Regions from separate parts of the Homo sapiens genome. Here region 2 is linked to region 1. Evidence: fine-mapped expression QTL. A gene starts in region 1. The other region holds a variant in brackets. All regions are shown on one strand. Distances are from middle to middle.

Evidence for each region. PIP is the estimated chance that this variant, and not a neighbour inherited with it, causes the effect.
Region 2: its variant is fine-mapped to the expression of LPL in whole blood (TOPMed, PIP above 0.99).

Annotation. Positions count from the first base shown.
Region 1 is chr8:19,934,917-19,944,604 of GRCh38, reverse strand. LPL (lipoprotein lipase) reads right to left here and starts at 5,352. Exons shown (of 10, transcript NM_000237.3): 1 at 5,077-5,352. The coding sequence starts at 5,164.
Region 2 is chr8:20,068,930-20,078,617 of GRCh38, reverse strand. No RefSeq gene overlaps it. Among named protein-coding and RNA genes, the nearest start is that of SLC18A1, 110 kb to the left of the region's middle. The variant T/C (reference allele first, on the strand shown) is at 4,292.

The sequences.
Region 1 (9,688 bases):
CAGCAGATGGTGCTTTAAAGGCAGATCAAAGTCATCACGTGAGTAAGATGAACATTTATGCAATGACATGAGGTACAAGAACTCAATGAGAATGCAATTCTCTTTGGAATTTCTGTTCTCCTGTTATCCCCCCACCCCTTTCTCTCTCTCTCCCCCCTTTTCTCTCACTCCTACAGGGCTTCCTCAGTAATTCATTTGCTCTCTGAGACTGATAGTCATAGTTATCGACTCAGGCAGTGTCTGTAGGATATCGAAGAACAAAGTGAATTACTGATGTGGTCGATTTGGTGAAGAAAAACATCAATATCATGATCAGACTGAATTGATTGGTCTGTTCAGATATTCTAACGTAAGTAATGCTCTTGACTTCTCTAACATGCAGCTTTACTTTATTTCATTTTATTTTATTATTATTTTTTGAAACGGAGTCTTGCTCTGTCACCCAGGCTGGAGTGCAGTGGCACGATCGTGACTCACTGCAACCTATGCCTCCTGGGTTCAAGCCATTCTCTGCCTCAGCCTCCCGAGTAGCCGGGATTACAGGTGCCTGCCACCACGCCTGGCTAATTTTTGTATTTTTAGTAGAGATGGGGTTTCACCATCCTGGCCACGCTGGTCTTGAACTCCCGACCTCATGATCCACCCGCCTCGGCCTCCCAAAATGCTGGGATTACAGGAGTGAGCCACTGTGCCAGCCTACTTTTTATTTTTATAAAAGTTGTTTTATTAATGGAATAGGAAAAATAAATCCTGTATGAATCATCTGAATTTTACCCTGAATTTTCTCCAATATTAGGGCTAACCTTCCACACTACTGAAAAAGAGGGGTTAAAAAATAGGTTCAGAGATGTGTATTAAAATTGCCCCACTGAATGAGACCATCAAGTGTGAATAAGCCATCATTATTTAAGGAGATCTTGTGGACTGGTTAATGAAATAATTTGGTTGAGTGTCATCACATAGGCATATTTCAGTCAAGATTTTTTAAGTGAAATACAAAATACTTACCTGGTTAATCTGAGACTACTTTCTTCTTGTTGCTGAGGATGGCAAATGGAAACATCCAGTTGTCTCAAACTAACACAATGAAAGTCCATGATTACTTTGCCAACAATTGTTTTATTGGAGGGAGGGCTGAATAAACATGGGGACGCTATTCTTTTTAGTTAAAATGTAAGTGCTAACTCCTATACTGTTTTTCACCGTAATTAATTCTGCAGCCAATTTTTTTTCAAAGGTACATTATTGATGTCATGATAGCTGTATCTTGAATGAAGGGCTGTTGAGGATCTCTAAGTGCAGATCCATTTACCTACATTCACCACCATCCCTCCGAAAGCATCTGACTTTTCATGCTACTTAAAAGCTTCTCTAAACTTTGTACTACACTCAAATTAATCCAAGCCAGAATGGTATTACCCCTACCTGACTGCATAGAAAGAGACTTCAACATTTACGAAAATACAGATGAGCGCACACACCAAAGTGGGTTGAGTGCTGTGAGCAAGGTGGCTGGATTAGACACAGTGTGGCCACGCCAACTGGGTCATCTTTGTTCTATTCTACTGTCAAATAATGGTGGGAGACGTTTTCGTTTATTCATTCAAACAGTCAAAATCACCACACTACTTAGATAGCATTTGATCATTCTGAGAGCACAGACTGGGAAGAGCAAAAGGAATGAATTGGCACAAGTTTAATAGGCTCACTTCCGGCAGAACTTACATATATATATAGCACCTAAGATAATCCATTCCTTCCTTCCTAGTAGATACCTGTTGTTGAGTACGCAAATGGTGTCAGTGCACACAGACAATCTTAAAATGGCCACAAGACAGCAAACTGCAGTCACGCAGTCTAGTGAACAGACATCGTTCAGAGTAAATTTCAAACTCTTAGCCTCTGAGTAAGTTGGAACCCTATCCTATTAGTCCTTCAGAAACTATTGGAGCCTTCAACTTTTGCAAAGACAGAATGTGACAAAAGCACTGTGACAAGAATTTTACTCCCAGGTTAGAAAGTCTCTGTTGATAAAAGGTATTTAGTTCACTGTGGTGACAAACTCATTTAATGGATAGATGATCCCAAAGCTTTACACTGATAAGTGTTTTTGTTGTTTTTATTGCCATAAAAGTTGGAATTTACCTTATTAGTAAATCCAAATGGTCTCTTCATCCAGACCTTAAAAAATCATGATACTCATGTCTTGAATACTTTCCTTACACTTTGTGATCCAAAATCATCACCAACCATCATTTTGATGGCTGGAACATCTTCATATTTAAGTCAATGCAGTCTTTGTGGTGGTCACGGAAGAAACTAGCTGCAAAATATTGTAAGTTGCAAGGCATTTTCTTGAACAATCTGGCATAAGGCAGTAAACTCTATGGCCCAATTTTTCCTCCATAATAAAGCAAGAACAGAAAGCTGAGTTAAAAATAAGCTGCTGAAAGAAAGCGAAAATTTTCCATCGCCGCTCTTCCCCCGTACCTGACTCCCACCTTTCAATACAGCTATTAATCAATCACTCCCTCGCTGAGCTCTCCTTCAGTGACATCTGCTATTTTGCTCTCCTTTGCCATCATGTTCAACTCAGAAGACAGCCTGGAAATTCACGATGGCCAGGCAAGTGGAACTTCAGCTGCTAAGCACTGACCATACTCTCCCTCTCCTAGCTCTTCACGTTTCCTAATTGGGGCCATGCAGAGATGGTGGTGGCTCCCAGGACGAAGTGCCTGAGGACAGTGCCTCTTGTCCTCATATTCTTGTTAGAAAGAATCCAGAATGAATAAGTAAACTCAAGAGCCCAGAGGAGGTGATCCCTGTCTTTCTACCACGGTGACATCTTTCTCTCCCTGAAATTCTTACCTTCCTAGATGAATGCATCTGGAGGAGAAAGAGGGAGAAAGTTGCTGTGATGGGAGAGGCATGATATATTGGGTGAGTAGAGTGAAAGTGGAGGGGATGGGAGGGCATCGTTTCCAGTCTACTTGGAAATAATCCTTCCTTAATATATTTACAGCTAGGAAAAGCATGTGTTGGCTACAACTCAATTAAACTAATTAATCACATAAGTGTCCACTTAAAGAGGCAAGAGTTACACCAGGCTCAGAGAACATTGGCCTCATCCAAACTCATTGCAGAGTTGAGGAACCTAAACCCAGAGAGGTGACACTGACTCCCAAGAATTTAGGATCTTGAACCTGTAAGGGAGCCTAGGAAAAACTTGAATGTGATGACATATTTCGGTGCTTGTTTTGCAATGAAAATGACGTTATTCTATGGTGTGCTTTCTGAAATAAGAATTTGGAGTTGGCTCCTACCATCTTCTTGTCAGCATTAAGCAGTACGAAGGGAAACATACGAAACATACCCCACCTAAGATGTTGAAGACTTTCTCATCAACTCTCCAGTGTTTTCAAACTGATCCAATAGAAAAGATACTTTTTTTCTTATCCAATTTTGCTTTGATGGAATCTATACTTAGTGTTTGTTTTGTTTTGTTTTAATTTTATGAGACAGGGTCTCACTGTCACCCAGGATGAAGTGCAGTGGGGCAATCACAGCTCACTGCAGTCTACTGAAACTCCCTGGCTCAAGTGATCTCTCAGCCTGCTGACTATCTGGGACCACAGGCACAGGCCACCACGCCCGGCTAATTTTTGTATTTTTTTTTTATAGAGACGGTGTCTCCCTATGTTGCCCAGGCTGATTTCGAACTTCTGGGCTCAAGCTGTCTTCCGGCCTCGGCCTCCCGAAGTGCTGGGACTACATGGGTGAGCCACTGCTCCCTGCCAACTTTTTGTTTTTTAACCTAACAAAAATGTTTCACAAATTAATGCCAAAATAAAACAAACGTTTAGCGGCCATCAAAGCTATGGAGAGACTCTATTATAACTTGAACCGCTGGGGACGTGCCGCCTGAGAGCACATCCAAGCGACACCGCCCTAATTGCAATTCCAGCATGGAAGAAAAAAGGAAATGTTGTCCCGTGTTATGAATGGCTTCAGCTGCTCTCTATGCTGCTGTTGCATGTTTACTGAATCGAGGTTCGAATTAAGCAGGCTGCCTCCATTGCGGACAGGTCTGAGACATTCTCATTTGGCCCCGAACGCCTGGACCCCAGCGAGCGGGCGGTTCCCTGGCGGCGGTGACCACCGTTGTGCTCGCTGCCTCCACGCGGCGCCCGTCAACCCCACGTGCTCGCAGCCGCGCGGCGGGGCCGGGCGCCCGGAGCTGACCTCAGCCCCCAGGACAGAAAGGGTGGCCAAACGCAGACCTGGCAACCCCCCGAGTCGGCGACCACAGATTGCTGGTGGCTGCGCCACGGTTTCGGGAGGGTCAGCCCCTCGCTGGGTTCTCAGGGCACTAAGAAAAGAGGGGCATGCGAGCCTGGAAGCTGGAGAGAGTCCGGGGCTCCCCAGAGCGGGTGGGACGCCGCGTCCCCAGGACTCCGCGCCACGCGTACTTTCTCCACCCCGACACCCACTGCCACTCCCACAGCGGAGCGAGGGGCCCCGCCGAGGGCGAGCGTACCCCGTGCGGCTGAGATGCCCGGAACGCCTCCCCGCGCCCCGGCTTCCCCAGAAGGGGCCACAGTCGGCCCGCGAGTCCCCGGGCGGGGGCTGAGCCGCAGTGCCAACCAAGGCGAGGTCACCTTGGCCCGCGCGCCTTTCATTCCAGGGCCCCTCCGGCAGAGAGGTGACTGCAGGTCACCGCCAGCCGGGCCCTTACTCCCCGCCTCCGCCGTCCCGGCCCCCACACCCCGGAACCTCCCCGGCGGAGCCTGCGAGCCCGGGAACGCGGTCCCAGCCAGAGTGGAAGGGATAGCGCGGGAACCCGGCAGAGAGAAAAAGCGGGAACTGGGCGCCGCCGCTTCACGATCGGGAGGAGATTCCCTCCCGGCCCCTCCTGGATCCCACTCCGGGGACCGTTTCGGGGCTAGAGCCCAGGCTGGGAGAGTCCCTGGGCGCATCCACCGCCCCTTCCAACTTCCTTCTTCTCATCCTCAGTTCGGGTGGCAGTGGCCACCCGCCGGGTCTGCAGGTGGAGGGGAGTTTGCGCGCAAAACTTACGGTCGGCGGCGGCCACCCCTCCGCGGGAGGCGGTCAGACTCTGGAGCCACACGGCCAGAGTCAGCACGAGCAGGGCTTTGCTCTCCATCTCGGGGCGCGTCCCTCTGGAGGAGCTGCAAGGCGCGGACCGACTGATGAGCCGGCTGAGCCGGAGGCTGGAGAGGGCTGGAGCCGCGGTTTGGCGCTGAGCAAGTCGCCCTTTAAAGGGGATGGCAGGGCAGCTAGAAGTGGGCAGCTTTCCCTTGAGGAGGAGGAAGAGGGGGAATCGAGTCTGACACTGTTTTCACGCCAAGGCTGCTTATGTGACTGGAAATATGCAAATAAACCTCATCACCTATTGGCTATAAAATCATAAGTTGGGGGGAGGGACCTAAATTCACTTCTAAACGTTTGAGCAAACAGTAATGAGGATCAACCCTGCCAACGAGAAGAGGGGGAAAGGGCAGACGGAAAAATTTGCTTTGTTAGGCTCCTGTTCGCTTAGCTTAAGGGGTTCCACTCTACCCGGGGGCCCCCTGTCTAAGCACCAAACACAGGTTTACATCGATTCACGTTAAATACTCAACAATCACCTGTTTTCCAAGGAGGGAAAGTTTAGCTGTTAAATTACATTTGATCGGCACTTTAATACACCTCTCTTTTGACGAATCCTGTTTGTCACTTGCAGTCCTCCCTCACTCACCCCGCACCCCATCCCCACCCCCGCAAAGTCAATGTAGGGATAGAGGGACACACATTGCGTCCCAGCTTGTGCTTGTACAATCTGGTGTTTTAACATTGGCAAGATGGATCAGCTTATGTGATGGAGAAAAGCCTACTTGCTCTAACTAGTTTCTAATTTTTGTCTCATGCAAATTATTCTCAATCCTCAAACTCATCAAGGAATGCAAGGATAATATTTTATGTTCAGAGGCAGAACATCGAGGTCAAATAATCTAAAGCCGTATTGAGTTATGATAAGTGAAAGAAGATAGTCGCAAAAGACACATATTGTATGATTCCATTTAAAGTGTCCACAAATAGACAAATCCATAGAGACCAAAAGTAGATCAGTGCTTGCCTGGGGCTGGGTAATTAATAGGGGAAGGGAAGAATAGAGATTTGGGGGTAGTTGATGACAATGTTCTAGATTACATTATGCTGATGCTGCACAACTCTGTAAATATACTAAAAGCAACAGAATTATGCACTTTCAATGGGAGAATTATATAGTGTGTAAATTATAGGTCAGTAAAGCTATTTTTAAATGGATAAGAGGCATGCACATAAAATAAGAAAAAAATAACATTAGATACTATGCTTTTCTGCCAAAATGCTTGGAATACTTTTAAATATCTTTTTAAATATAAGGGATTTACATTAGCCAGGAAGGACAATGAAGTGTATCCCCAACCCCCTCTCAGTTTATGGCTGAGAAACTGGCTCATCAAATCAGAACCTCCAATCTACTATATTTATGGTCTGAATATTTTTAATGTCCCCTTTTATTCATCCCACCCTCCGTCACACACACACAAACATACAATGCACAATTGTAGGTTAGAACAATGAAATGCTTTTTAAAAAACTGGGCTCACTTTTTAAGTTTTTCTCAAAAAATGAAATAAAAGTTGATAATACCCAAATATTTCAAAGGTCTCTATTCTGCATAACAATTCTATCTTTAAGTTGATGCATTCCGTGCCACAACACAACACACCGTCTTGTATTGCAATTATTACACAATATACTGTGCACGTTCACTCTAACCTACAAAGTATGTAGAGAATCTTGAAACCTGCCAAAAATTAAACTTCGCAGAACTTTAGAAGTGGCAGAACAGACCATGCAAGGGATGAATAACTATGATATGGCCGTCCTCCAAAAATCATGTAGTAAACTCTAATTTTAAAAAATGACAGAAGATGAATACAATTGCATTGGATGTGTTCATGGTGTGAATGGCATATAAACAGACGTGCAGAACTGCCTGCTATCTTATATAGAATACTCCTGCAGCCTATTTTCATGCATAAATGTCCTTTGATAAGACAACCAAATCAAACTGCACTTCTGTGCCTTTCAGAAAACTGCAAGGAGATTTTATATAATTGCTAAGGGAAAGTCTGATACTTATAGCGTATTTTTAAAATGATTTCCCAGGCTAACCAGATAACAAAATTAAAGCACTCAAGAGTTGGAGGATATGTAATATTTAAATATGAATCCAGTTTGGAGTGAACTGTGCCATTAGCACGTCCAATAGAGTTGCTGAGATTTCCAGGAAGACTTAATTTACAGCAGCTTAGCCTGGTTAAAAAAAAAAAAAAAGCAAGACAGGTTGGCTCCTCTCCCAGGGCCAGCGCGGAGCAGGTGGGTGTGGCGGCAACGTTCTCTCCTGATTGGCTGCACTGGGAGCCATCAGGTGCCCGCCTTCTAACGCAGAAACTCACATGATCTCTAGGTCAGGATTGCATGTGCATTAGTGAAGCGACTCATCCAAACTTTGGCGAGGTTACTCGGCCTTCAGTAGCTCAAGGCTTGACTTTTTCCATAATTGGCATTTCCTTTGTAACAAACTAAGTTTTAGGTGAGAAGAAGCTAACAGTACCCCTTTAGCAGGACACTTGCCACTGGGACACATTTAAAATTACCTAAGTAAAAACTTGAATGTGCATATCTAATGAAACAACTGGAAATTCTGGATGTAGGGAAGCATTATTTAGCTGGCCAGCCAGCTAGCTAGCTAGCTTGCTTATTTTGATTGAAGGCCTGCTAATTGCACTGGGCACTTTTCATCTTCTACTGTGTTTAATCATTACAAAAGCACTCCAAACTCAATAATATTCCCCTTCTACAGATGAGGGAAGATGAAGCTCAGGGAAGATTAAATAACAGCAACCACAAATCATAAGATGTTTTTTCTTTGGCGATCCTAGCCGAGAAGCAAATATGTATTTGATGTGCTATATTTTAATGTTGCAGCAATTGCAAACAGGAATAGGCTGGGAATCAGATTTTTTTTGTACACACATATTTTAATGTAGATTTTTATTTTGTGGCTTTCTTACTAAAGTAAAATACAATGAAATGTGTAAGTAGGCTCTAAAGAACATCAGTACTGAGTCGGATCTTGTCCTTATAAAAAGTATAATTAATGTAAGAAAACATACTAATACAAATAAAATGTATAAATACAAAGTCATAATTATTTAAAAATATTGTAAAATCTATTGAATTTTTAAAACATTTTATTATTATTATAGTTTGAGTTTTAGGGTAAATGTGCACAACGTGCAGGTTTGTTACATATGTATACCTGTGCCATGTTGGTGTGCTGCACCTATTAACTTGTCATTTACATTAGGTATATCTCCTAATGCTATCCCTCCCCCTCCCCCCACCCCACAACAGTCCCCAGTGTGTGATGTTCCCCTTCCTGTGTCCATGTGTTTGCATTGTTCAATTCCCACCTATGAGTGAGAACATGTGGTGTTTGGTTTTTTGTCCTTGTGATAGTTTGCTGAGAATGATGTTTTCCAGTTTCATCCATGTCCCTACAAAGGACATGAACTCATCATTTTTTATGGCTGCATAGTATTCCATGGTGTATATGTGCCACATTTTCTTAATCCAGTCTATCGTTGTTGGACATTTGGGTTGGTTCCAAGTCTTTGCTATTGTGAATAGTGCCACAATAAACATACATGTGCATGTGTCTTTATAGCAGCATGATTTATAATCCTTCGGGTATATACCCAGTAATGGGACGGCTGGGTCAAATGGTATTTCTAGTTCTAGATCCCTGAGGAATCACCACACTGACTTCCACAATGGTTGAACTAGTTTACAGTCCCACCAACAGTGTAAAAGTGTTCCTATCTCTCCACATCCTCTCCAGCACCTGTTGTTTCCTGAGTTTTTAATGATCGCCATTCTAACTGGTGTGAGATGGTATCTCATTGTGGTTTTGATTTGCATTTCTCTGATGGCCAGTGAGCATTTTTTCATGTGTCTTTTGGCTGCATAAATGTCTTCTTTTGATAAGTGTCTGTTCATATCCTTCGCCCACTTTTTGATGGGTTTGTTTGTTTTTTTCTTGTAAATTTGTTTGAGTTCATTGTAGATTCTGGATATTAGCCCTTTGTCAGATGAGTAGGTTGCGAAAATTTTCTCCCATTCTGTAGGTTGCCTGTTCACTCTGATGGTAGTTTCTTTTGCTGTGCAGAAGCTCTTTAGTTTAATTAGATACCATTTGTCAATTTTGGCTTCTGTTGCCATTGCTTTTGGTGTTTTAGTCATGAAGTCCTTGACCATGCCTATGTCCTGAATGGTATTGCCTAGGTTTTCTTCTAGGGTTTTTATGCAGTTAGATCTAACATTTAAGTCTTTAATCCATCTTAAATTAATTTTTGTATAAGGTGTAAGGAAGGGATCCAGTTTCAGCTTTTTACATATGGCTAGCCAGTTTTCCCAGCACCATTTATTAAATAGGGAATACTTTCCCCATTTCTTGTTTTTGTCAGGTTTGTCAAAGATCAGATAGTTGTAGATATAGGACATTATTTCTGAGGCCTCTGTTCTGTTCCATTGATCTATATCTCTGTTTTGGTACCACTACCATGCTGTTTTG
Region 2 (9,688 bases), 130 kb before region 1:
ATGGCACAATCCCCTTATTTTACAGATAGTAATAGAAATCTATTAGAATAATGAGGAGATATTAGGCTTTTGTGCTAGGTACAGTTTAAAGTGGTCCACATTAGTAACTCATCGAATTCTCACACCAACCTTGTGAAATAGACACTGTTGTAAATCTCCTTTTCACAGATGGATAAACAGAGGCACAGAGAGTTTTAAGCAACTCACTGAAGGTCACACAGCTAGTAAGTGGTAGAGCAGGCTTTTAGAATCCAGATAGACTAATTCTGAGTTTATGCTCTTAACCGTTCAACTCTGTGGTAAAAGTGATTTGTCCAACTCAATTAGTGAGTGAGCCAAACTGGGTCTAGACCATACAAGTCCTGAGAACATCCAGTGTAGACACACAATAGGCACTGTGTGGAAAAGACAGCCATGAATGACAGAATTAGAAAGATGTATCAGGAAGGAAGGAAGGAGGGCAGAAAGGGGAAGGGAGGGAGGAAGAATCATTTTCCTTGTCCCAGGGTGTATGATCCAGCTTCCCACTGGCCTCTCGTCTATCTGCAGACCAACAGCTCTGATGCTGACATGTTGGTTTGCTGCAGGATGATTTAGACAGGAGAGTAACATCATCTGATCACTTTGGCCAAGTTTCACCAGATGGACTATGTTGTCTTCACTACCTGCCTTCTGTGTTCTCTTGTCAATGAAGGGTAAATCATCCTGGTTAACAAAACTATGCTCCTGGGTTTTTGGAATAATCATTACAAACAAGAACAATTTGTTGAGCTGTTTAAATGCATTATCTCATTTTATCATCCCAGAAAAAACTGATGTATATATTATTATTCCCATTTTGGAGATGAAAATATTGAGTCTCAGGCAGCTTAAGTAATTTGCTCAAAATTATATAACTCATTAGTAGAAGGAATGAGATTTGAAGCAGGACTATTTCATTCTAAAGCCTAGTCTTTAGTATGATGATGTATTGCTTCTGCAGAGTGTATTCTGAATCCTCTAGATAATTTCATATGGTGAAAATATTCAAGTCCTGGCCGGGTGCGGTGGCTCACACCTATAATCCCAGCAATTTGGGAGGCCGAAGTGGGCGGATCACCTGAGGTCAGCAGTTCAAGACCAGCCTAGCCAACATGGTGAAACCCCATCTTTACTAAAAATACAAAAATTAGCCGTGCCCGTAATCCCAGCTACTCGGGAGGCTGAGGCAGGAGAATCGCTTAAACCTGGGAATATATATATATATATATATATATATATATATATATATATATACTCAAGTTCTAACATCGTTATATTAACCAATTTGAGCAAATAATCTACAAACACCTGTTTTCAGATGGCAGAGAAGTGGCCTCTTTTCCATTCCCTCTCTATTCCCAGCAGGTCAGAGACTGACTTTGACCAGATCACAGTGAGGTAACTGTGTCCTTGCATAAAGAACTGACCCAGAAGCAAGCCATTTGAGAATAATTCAGTGGCACATTCTAGGCCAAGAGAAAATAACTCAAGATAAGAATATAACCCCCAAAGGGGAATAGATTTCTTGTTGGCAGAACTCTATATGCTTCCAGTTCTGCAGCAATAGCAGATTTCTCCAAGTTACTGAGTTCAGAGGATATATTTTGTTTAAACAACAACAAAGAAAGCTCAAGAGAGAGCTTGTTTTTTCTTTTGCAATAAGCTACATGTATTTTTTGAATGCCTGTTAAACATTCCGTTGTCTGGCATGGGGCTCTCCACATTTTCTTTCCCCTGTGGGGCTCTTACAACCCATCTCACTTCACCCACAGCCTTCCCTGAAATATGGCTCATTTCACTAGTAGGTCAGCAAATATGGCAAATTGGCAAATTGTCAACTCCAAATTGACCTTTCATTTCTCAATGCTGTTTGCTGGGCAACAAGCAAGGGGAATTAAAACTTCAGTCCTGGAGTCTCAAAAGGAATTGGAGCAAAAATCAAGATTGATAGCAAAGTGCTGAAACAGACATTTTATTTGGTGGAGCCATTTCAACCGAAGTGCAAAAGGCATCCTGGTAAGGAGATGAGCTTGTGTCTTTGAACAGCTTTTTCCCTTTCATACATCTGATATTTTTTTGAGTGCCTACCAATTTTCTAGACTTTATTTTTGGCTTAGGATCCAAAACATTATAATCACTGCCCTCCAGGAGCTTACATTCTGATGGGGGAGGACAAAACATAAACATAGGAAAAAGTAAATTAAATTGTGCATTAGACAGTGATGTGTTTGGGATAAAAAAAAAATAAATAGGGAAGGGTTTAGAAAATGCTAGGAGGTGAGCATTTTAAATAGTGTGTTGTCAGGGAAATCTTCACTGAGAACTTGATGTTTGAATAAAACCCAAAGGAGGGAAGGTAGCAAGCCAAGCTGATGTTCTGCAGGACAGTGTGCCAAGCAGAGAGAAGAGCCACTCACAAGGCCCTTGGGGACAGGTACTGGAGGAATGCAAAGGGGCCAGTGTGAGTGGAGTGGATGAGGCTAGCAAGAGGAGACAGATACTGCAGGGTCTTGTAGGCCATTGATAGGTCTCAGCACCCTGCTAAAACCATGACCACTGCGTCATGTGTAACCCTGACATTTGCAAAGCATTCATTTTCAGTGTTTGCTTATATCCTTGATCAAACTTGGTTCAACCCCGAGAGGAAGAGAAGCAGACCACTTCTCATTGTCTCCACTTTAGAGATAAACCAGACGCCAAGAATACTGAATAAATGACCAACTTCTCAGAGGGTGATTTGACCTCCCGTCTCTTAATTTCTAGACTGTTGCTTTTTCTACTGCATCTTCATTGTATTTCAGGCCATTTGTGCTTTGAAAATGGAGAGCTGATAAAAACGAGGAAGCTCAAGCCTTATCCTCAGCAATTATCTTGGATCATTTTGATTCAAGGGCTCTCTCATTTCTTGGTTTATTTATCTCACTATCCACAGCTACAAAGCAATGGTGCAGGGTACACACAGCCCAGCTCTACTGGGCACCATTCGTACAGACTGCAGTGTGAATTGTGCCCCTTGGTGTTGAGCCAAGTGCAGGCACTGCTGTGGTGTACTGTCTTTCCTCATCTTGACTTTGTCTCTTATTTCTAGCCTCACATTTGAATTCTCTGTAGCAGAATTTCATCTTCCCAGTTTTGAGTTTTGGCAGTCCCTAGATAGAACATGGTTTGCACCCACACTTTCGCAAATAATTGACCTAGACCCAACCCAGTCTTGAGACATCTTCTGGCATTAACTGCCTAGAAGGTATCTCAGTTGTTCCTGTTCCCTCCTGTCCCTCATGCCTAACAAGATTTGGGACAGTTTTGAAACCACTTTTGCAAAAATTTTAAAAATGTGAAAATTATGACAGTAAAAGAGATCTGATCTAACCAATCTCCATCTTGCCTTTAACTTCCAGACTGTCCTTGGCCATTCCTAGGCTTGGGTCTAGCTAACTTTGGGAGAAATTTAGTTTATCATTTAAATGATAACAGCCCTTCCCCAAAAGTAAACCATCTTTCTAAAACTAATGAAAGACTACCAGGTTAGGAGGATGAGAGGAGGCTGAATTCTGCTAAGATGTAGGCAGAATAAACTATTACCTATAAACAAGGTAATGAACCATTACCGGCCATTATTCCAGAGGTCACAAGATTTGCAAATTCTCCGATTACTCCTGTAGATAACATCGCTATTGTGGAACCTAACAAGATTGGCCTTTTGAGATGTCCTTTCAGATTTTTGCATTTCTAACTACCAGATGGCCCACCCGGACCCAGGACTCTGCTCCTGTGGCTCCTACCCAGAAGGGACTCTGTACAAGGACCACTTTCCACACCGCTGTGATTGCATCCAATCAAGCAGTACCCATTCCCTCAGCCCCCCGCCCACCAAACTATTCTTAAAAAACCCTAGCCTCTGAATTCTCAGGGAGATTGATTTGGGTAATAACTTCATCTCCCACATGGCATGGCTGGTCTTGTGTCAATTAAACTTCCTTATTGCAGTGTCACGGTTGCAATGAATTGGTTTTGTCTGGACAGTGGGCAGGAAAAACCCATGGAGCAATTACAGTTTCCTTCTATATCTAACTATCCACCCTTGAGGAAATCAGCTCATAATCTTAGGTAGTTGGTATTTATCTCTGATTCTTGTGTTTATATATTTCAAATCCTCCCAAACCTTGGGCTGCAAGTTTTTTCTGTATGCTGTCTTTGTGGGGTCTTTGGCAGTTTTTTCACAAATGACTAAGCTTGAGCCAATTTGATGAATGGAGTCTTTAGAAACGGA[T/C]TCTCGTTTGACACACAGATCTGCTAAGCTAATAAACTTTGTTATGAGCTGAGCAAATTTCCTCTTCTGGAATCTTCCCTGTGGTGACCGGCCTGTGCTGGGGAGGAAATCAGCTGCTTTCTCAAGGGCCTTTGTGTCCCCAGCCCCTGCTGCAAGTTACAGAGGGGTGACCTCTACCATGTACTTTCCCACGCCCCACCTCCTGACTCTGGGGTGTGCGAGTGAGTGTGAGAATCCTTGAAGTTACATAACAGAGAGCTCAGGCAACAGACTGCTTCTGCTTCCTCCATCACCAGGAGAGCTTACTTCTGACTTTGGATCCCAATTCTTCACTAAGGATGCCCTGTCCTTTCTCAATTAAATTTCCTTTCACTTCCTCTAACCCTTCAATCTTGGATTCCCTTTGATCACGTAGTTCTGTTAATCCATAGCCAGGAAGTTTTTGGAAGAAACAGAGGCACCCTTTATCTCTTAACATATGAAATACATACAGGATATACGCATATGAGCACATGCAGTACCAATATGGCACCATGCAAGGACAGCCATCAGAGGATATCCCCACAATGCAACAGCAAATTTTCTTGCTTTCTTATTTACTTATTTATTAATTTTTATTTTTTGAGATGGCATCTCACTCTGTCACCCAGGCTGGAGTGCAGTGGCCCGATTTCGGCTCACTGCAACCTCCACCTCCCGGGTTCAAGTGATTCTTCCGCCTCATCCTCCCGAGTAGCTGGGACTATAGGCGCGCATGCTAATTTTTGTATTTTTAGTAGAGACTGGTTTTCACCATATTGGCCAGGCTGGTCTCGAACTCCTGACCTCGTGATCCACCTGCCTTGGCCTCCCAAAGTGCTGGGATTACAGGCGTGAGCCACCGCACCCGGCGTACCAAACCAATAAAAGAAAAAAAACCGCTCACAAAGCAGGCCACACTGACCCTCCCAATAGTGACGCAAGATAGAATTTCTGGGAGGGGTGTTATAAGAAATTAAGAACTATATATTTGATTTCTGCCCCTGGTTCCTGGTACAAGAGCGTCTAAGAACCCCTAGGAGCTCCCTGAGTGATGGGAGTGGGAGGAGCTTCTTTTGTCGTTCCTAACAAGTTGGGGACTGGTTGCCAGAGGAATCAAATTCAGCCCCATCACCCGCCCCAAACCTAAGGAAGGGGAGAGAGGCTGGGGATTGAGTTAATCACCAATGGCCAATGATTTAATCAATTGTGTTTATGTAATAAAACCTCCATAAAAACCCCTAAATAATGGGGTTTGGAGAGCTTCTGGACTGGTGAACACGTGGAGGTGCCTAGAGGGTGGTGCTCCTGGAGAGGGCATGGAAGCTCTCTGCCCCTTCCCCATACATTGTCCTGGGCGTCTGATACGGTTTGGCTGTTTCCCCACCAAAATCTCAACTTAAATTGTATCTCCCAGAATTCCCATGAATTGTGGGAGGGGCCCAGGGGGAGGTAATTGAATCATGGGGTCAGTCTTTCTCGTGCGTGCTATTCTCGTGATAGTGAATAAGTCTCACGAGATCTGATGGTTTTATCAGGGGCTTCCGCTTTTGCTTCATTCTCATTTTCTTTTGCCTCCGCCACGTGAGAAGTGCCTTTCGCCTCCTGCCATGATTCTGAGGCCTCCCCAGCCATGTGGAACTGTAAGTCAAATTAAATCTCCTTTTCTTTCCCATCTCGGGTGTGTCTTTATCAGCAGCGTAAAAACGGACAAATACAGCCTCTCTTCCATACGCTGTTCCTGAGTCGTGTCTTTTATAATAAACGAGTAGACTGTTTTCCTGGATTCTGTGAGGCAGTCGAGCAAAATATTAAATCCAAGCATGGGGTCGTGGGGACCCCTTATTTGTAGCCAGTTGGCCAGAAGTTTGGAGGTCCAGATTTACTACTGGCATCTGAAGTGGGGGGCTTGTGTGTGGGACTGAGCCCTTCACTAGTGGGGTGTGATCTAACTCCTGGTGGTTAGTTTCGGAATTGAGTTGAATTACTGGACACCTAGTTGATGTCTGGAGAGTCACAGTGTTGGTGATTGGTGTGGAAAAAAAACAAAACAAAACAAAAAAACCTCCCGCATTAGGTGTCACAGGTGTTGCGAGTATAAAAACAGTTTTTTCCTCAGGTGGGCAACAATCGCTTTCTTGCTTCTGGGGCAGGAGGATGTAAAGGAGGGAGATGAGGCAGTGGGGCACTGAGTGAATCTGGCCTGGGGTTGGTTAAGGCTGTTTCAGGAGAACATGTGGAAACTTACATCAGAATCACACTGAATAATTCTTAAAGTCATATATAGCTGCTGCTTCTTATTCATGGTAGTTATGGTCTGTAAAGTCGCTGTAACACTAAATTAGTGAATACTGAGTCATTGCTCCTAATGGAAATACAGGCACCTGCAAGCCTCTGGTTACAGTATTTTCCTCCAGTGGTCAATACATAACCTTGTTTGACGTGTATCACTGTTTGAAGACACTTTATTTAACATTGTTGATTCATTGACACTGAACTCAAGGCCAACAGCACTATCATTCCTAACTGAGCAAAAGCTTATCTGACACATGTATTTCTCTATAACATATCACAGCCTTCTTGCACTTAGGAACACTAGGCCAGCAGTGTTTGGCACCAGGGACTGGTTTCATGGAAGACTATTTTTTCATGGACTTGAGTGGGGATAGTTTCAGGATGATGCAAGCCCATTACATTTATTGTGTACTTTATTTCTATTATTACATTGTAATATATAATGAAATAATTATACAACTCATGGTAATGTAGAATCAGGGGAAGCCCTGAGCTTGTTTGCCTGCAACTAGACAGTCCCTTCTGGGGATGATGGGAGACAGTCACGGATCATCAGGCATTAGATTCTCGTAAGGAGTGTGCAACCTAGACCCCTTACACGCACAGTTCACAGTAGGGTTTGTGCTTCTATGAGAATCTAATACCACCAGTGATCTGATAGGAGGCAGAACTCAGGCAGTAATGCAAGCAATGGGGAGCAGCTGTAAATACAGATGAAGCTTTGCTCACACACTGCTAACCTCCTGCTATGGGGCCCAGTTCCTAAAAGTCCACAGAACAGTACCAGGCCCAGGAGTTGGAGACCCCTGCACTAGACAAAACTTCAGCAGCTACACTTGCGGGCCATTTTAAATAGCAAAATTACCAACACAAAGCACGCACAAAACCCATGATACAATGAAAAGGACACTCGTTTACATCATGAGAGCTGAAACAGAAAGGCAGAGTAATCATGTCAGTATTTCAAATGTCTTGCTACTCTATGGATGTGCACAAACACTGCAGAAGTGGCATGTGTATTGATTCTGAGGTTAGAAATACATTTTAGGGAGCAGGCAAATTCACAAATATGGAATCCATGAATCCGTGTCTCAGTCAATGTACGGTCATGTGCTGCATAATGACGTTTTGGTCAATGACAGACCACATATACGATGGTGGTCCCATAAGATTATAATGGAGCTGAAAATTTTCTATTTCCTAGTGATATTGTAGCTGTCATAACAAATGTCATAGTGCAATGCATTACTCCCATGTTTGTGGTGACACTGGTGTAAACAAACCTACTTCACTGCCAGTTATGTAAAAGTATAGCACATACAATTATGTATATTACATCATAATACTTGATAGTGATAAAATGACCAAGTTACTGGTTTATGTGTTTACCATACTATACATTGTAGCATCATTTTAGAGTGTACTTCTACTTATTAAAAAAAAAAGCTAATTGTAAAACAGCCTCACATAGGTCCTTTAGAGAGTATTCCAGAATAAGACGTTGTTATCCTACGAGATGACAGCTCTGTGATTGTTACTGTCCCTGAAGACCTTCCAGTGGAACAGGAGTGGAGGGGGAGGACAATGATATGGATCATCCTGACCCTGTGTAGGCCTAGGCTAATGTGTCTGTTTGTGCTTTAGTTTTTAACAAAAAAGTTTTAAAAAGTAAAAACTAAAATAAAAAATTTAAAAATAGAGAAAAGCTTATAGAATAAGGATATAAAGAAATAAAATATTTTTGTACAGCTGTACAGTGGGTTTGTGTTTTAAGCTAAGTGTTATTACAAAAGAATAAAAAAGTTTAAAAAGTTTTTAAAGTTTGTGAAGTAAAAATGTTACGGTAAGCGAAGGTTAATTTAATATTGGAGAAAGAATTTTTTTAAAAATTTACTGTAGCCTAAGTGTACGCTATTTACAAAGCCTACAGTGTTGGACAGTAATGTCCGAGGCCTTCACATTCACTCACTCAGGGCAGCTTCTAGTCCTGCAAGTTCTTTTCATGGTAAGTGAACTATACAGGTGTAGCATTTTTTATCTTTTGTACTGTATTTTTACTGTACCTTTAATTTTTTAATTTTTTAATTTTTCCATAAGTTATTGGGGGACAGATGGTATTTGGTTACATGAGTAAGTTCTTTAGTGGTGATCTGTGAGATTTTGGTGCACCCATCACCCAAGCAGTATACACTGCACCATATTTGTAGTCTTCCATCCCTCACCCCTGCAAGTCTCCAAAGTCCGTTGCACCATTCTTATGCCTTTGTGTCCTCACAGCTTAGCTCCCACACATCAATGAGAACATAAGATACTTGGTTTTCCATTTCTGAGTTACTTCACTTAGAATAATAGTCTCCGATCTCATCCAGGTCGCTGCAAATGTTGTTAATTCATTCCTTTTTATGGCTGTGAAGTATTCCATCGTGTATATATATATATACCACAGTTTCTTTATCCACTCGTTGATTGATGGTCATTTGGCTTGGTTCCACGATTTGCAATTGTGAGTTGTGCTGCTATAAACATGCGTGTGGAAGTATCTTTTTCAAATAATTACTTCTTTTCCTCTGGGTAGATACCCAGTAGTGGGATTGCTGGATCAAATGGTAGTTCTATTTTTAGTTCTTTAAGGAATCTCCACACAGTTTTCCATAGTGGCTGTACTAGTTTATATTCCCGCCAGCAGTATAGAAGTGTTCCCTGTTCAGCACATCCACACCAATATCTGGTTTTTGATTTTTTGATTATGGCCATTCTTGCAGGAGTGAGGTGGTATTGCACTGTGGTTTTGATTTGCATTTCTCTGATGATGAGTGATGCTGAGCATTTTTTCATATGTTTGTTGGCCATTTGTATATCTTCTTTTGAGAATTGTCTATTCATGTCCTTAACCCGCTTTTTGATGGGATGGTTTGTTTTTTTTTCTTACTGATTTGTTTGAGTTCGTTGAAGATTCTGGATATCAGTCCTTTGTTGGATGTATAGATTGTGAAGATTTTCTCCCACTCTGCATTGTCTGTTTACTTTGCTGACTGTTCCTTTTGCTGTGTAAAAGCTCTTTAGTTCAATTAGGTCCCAGCTATT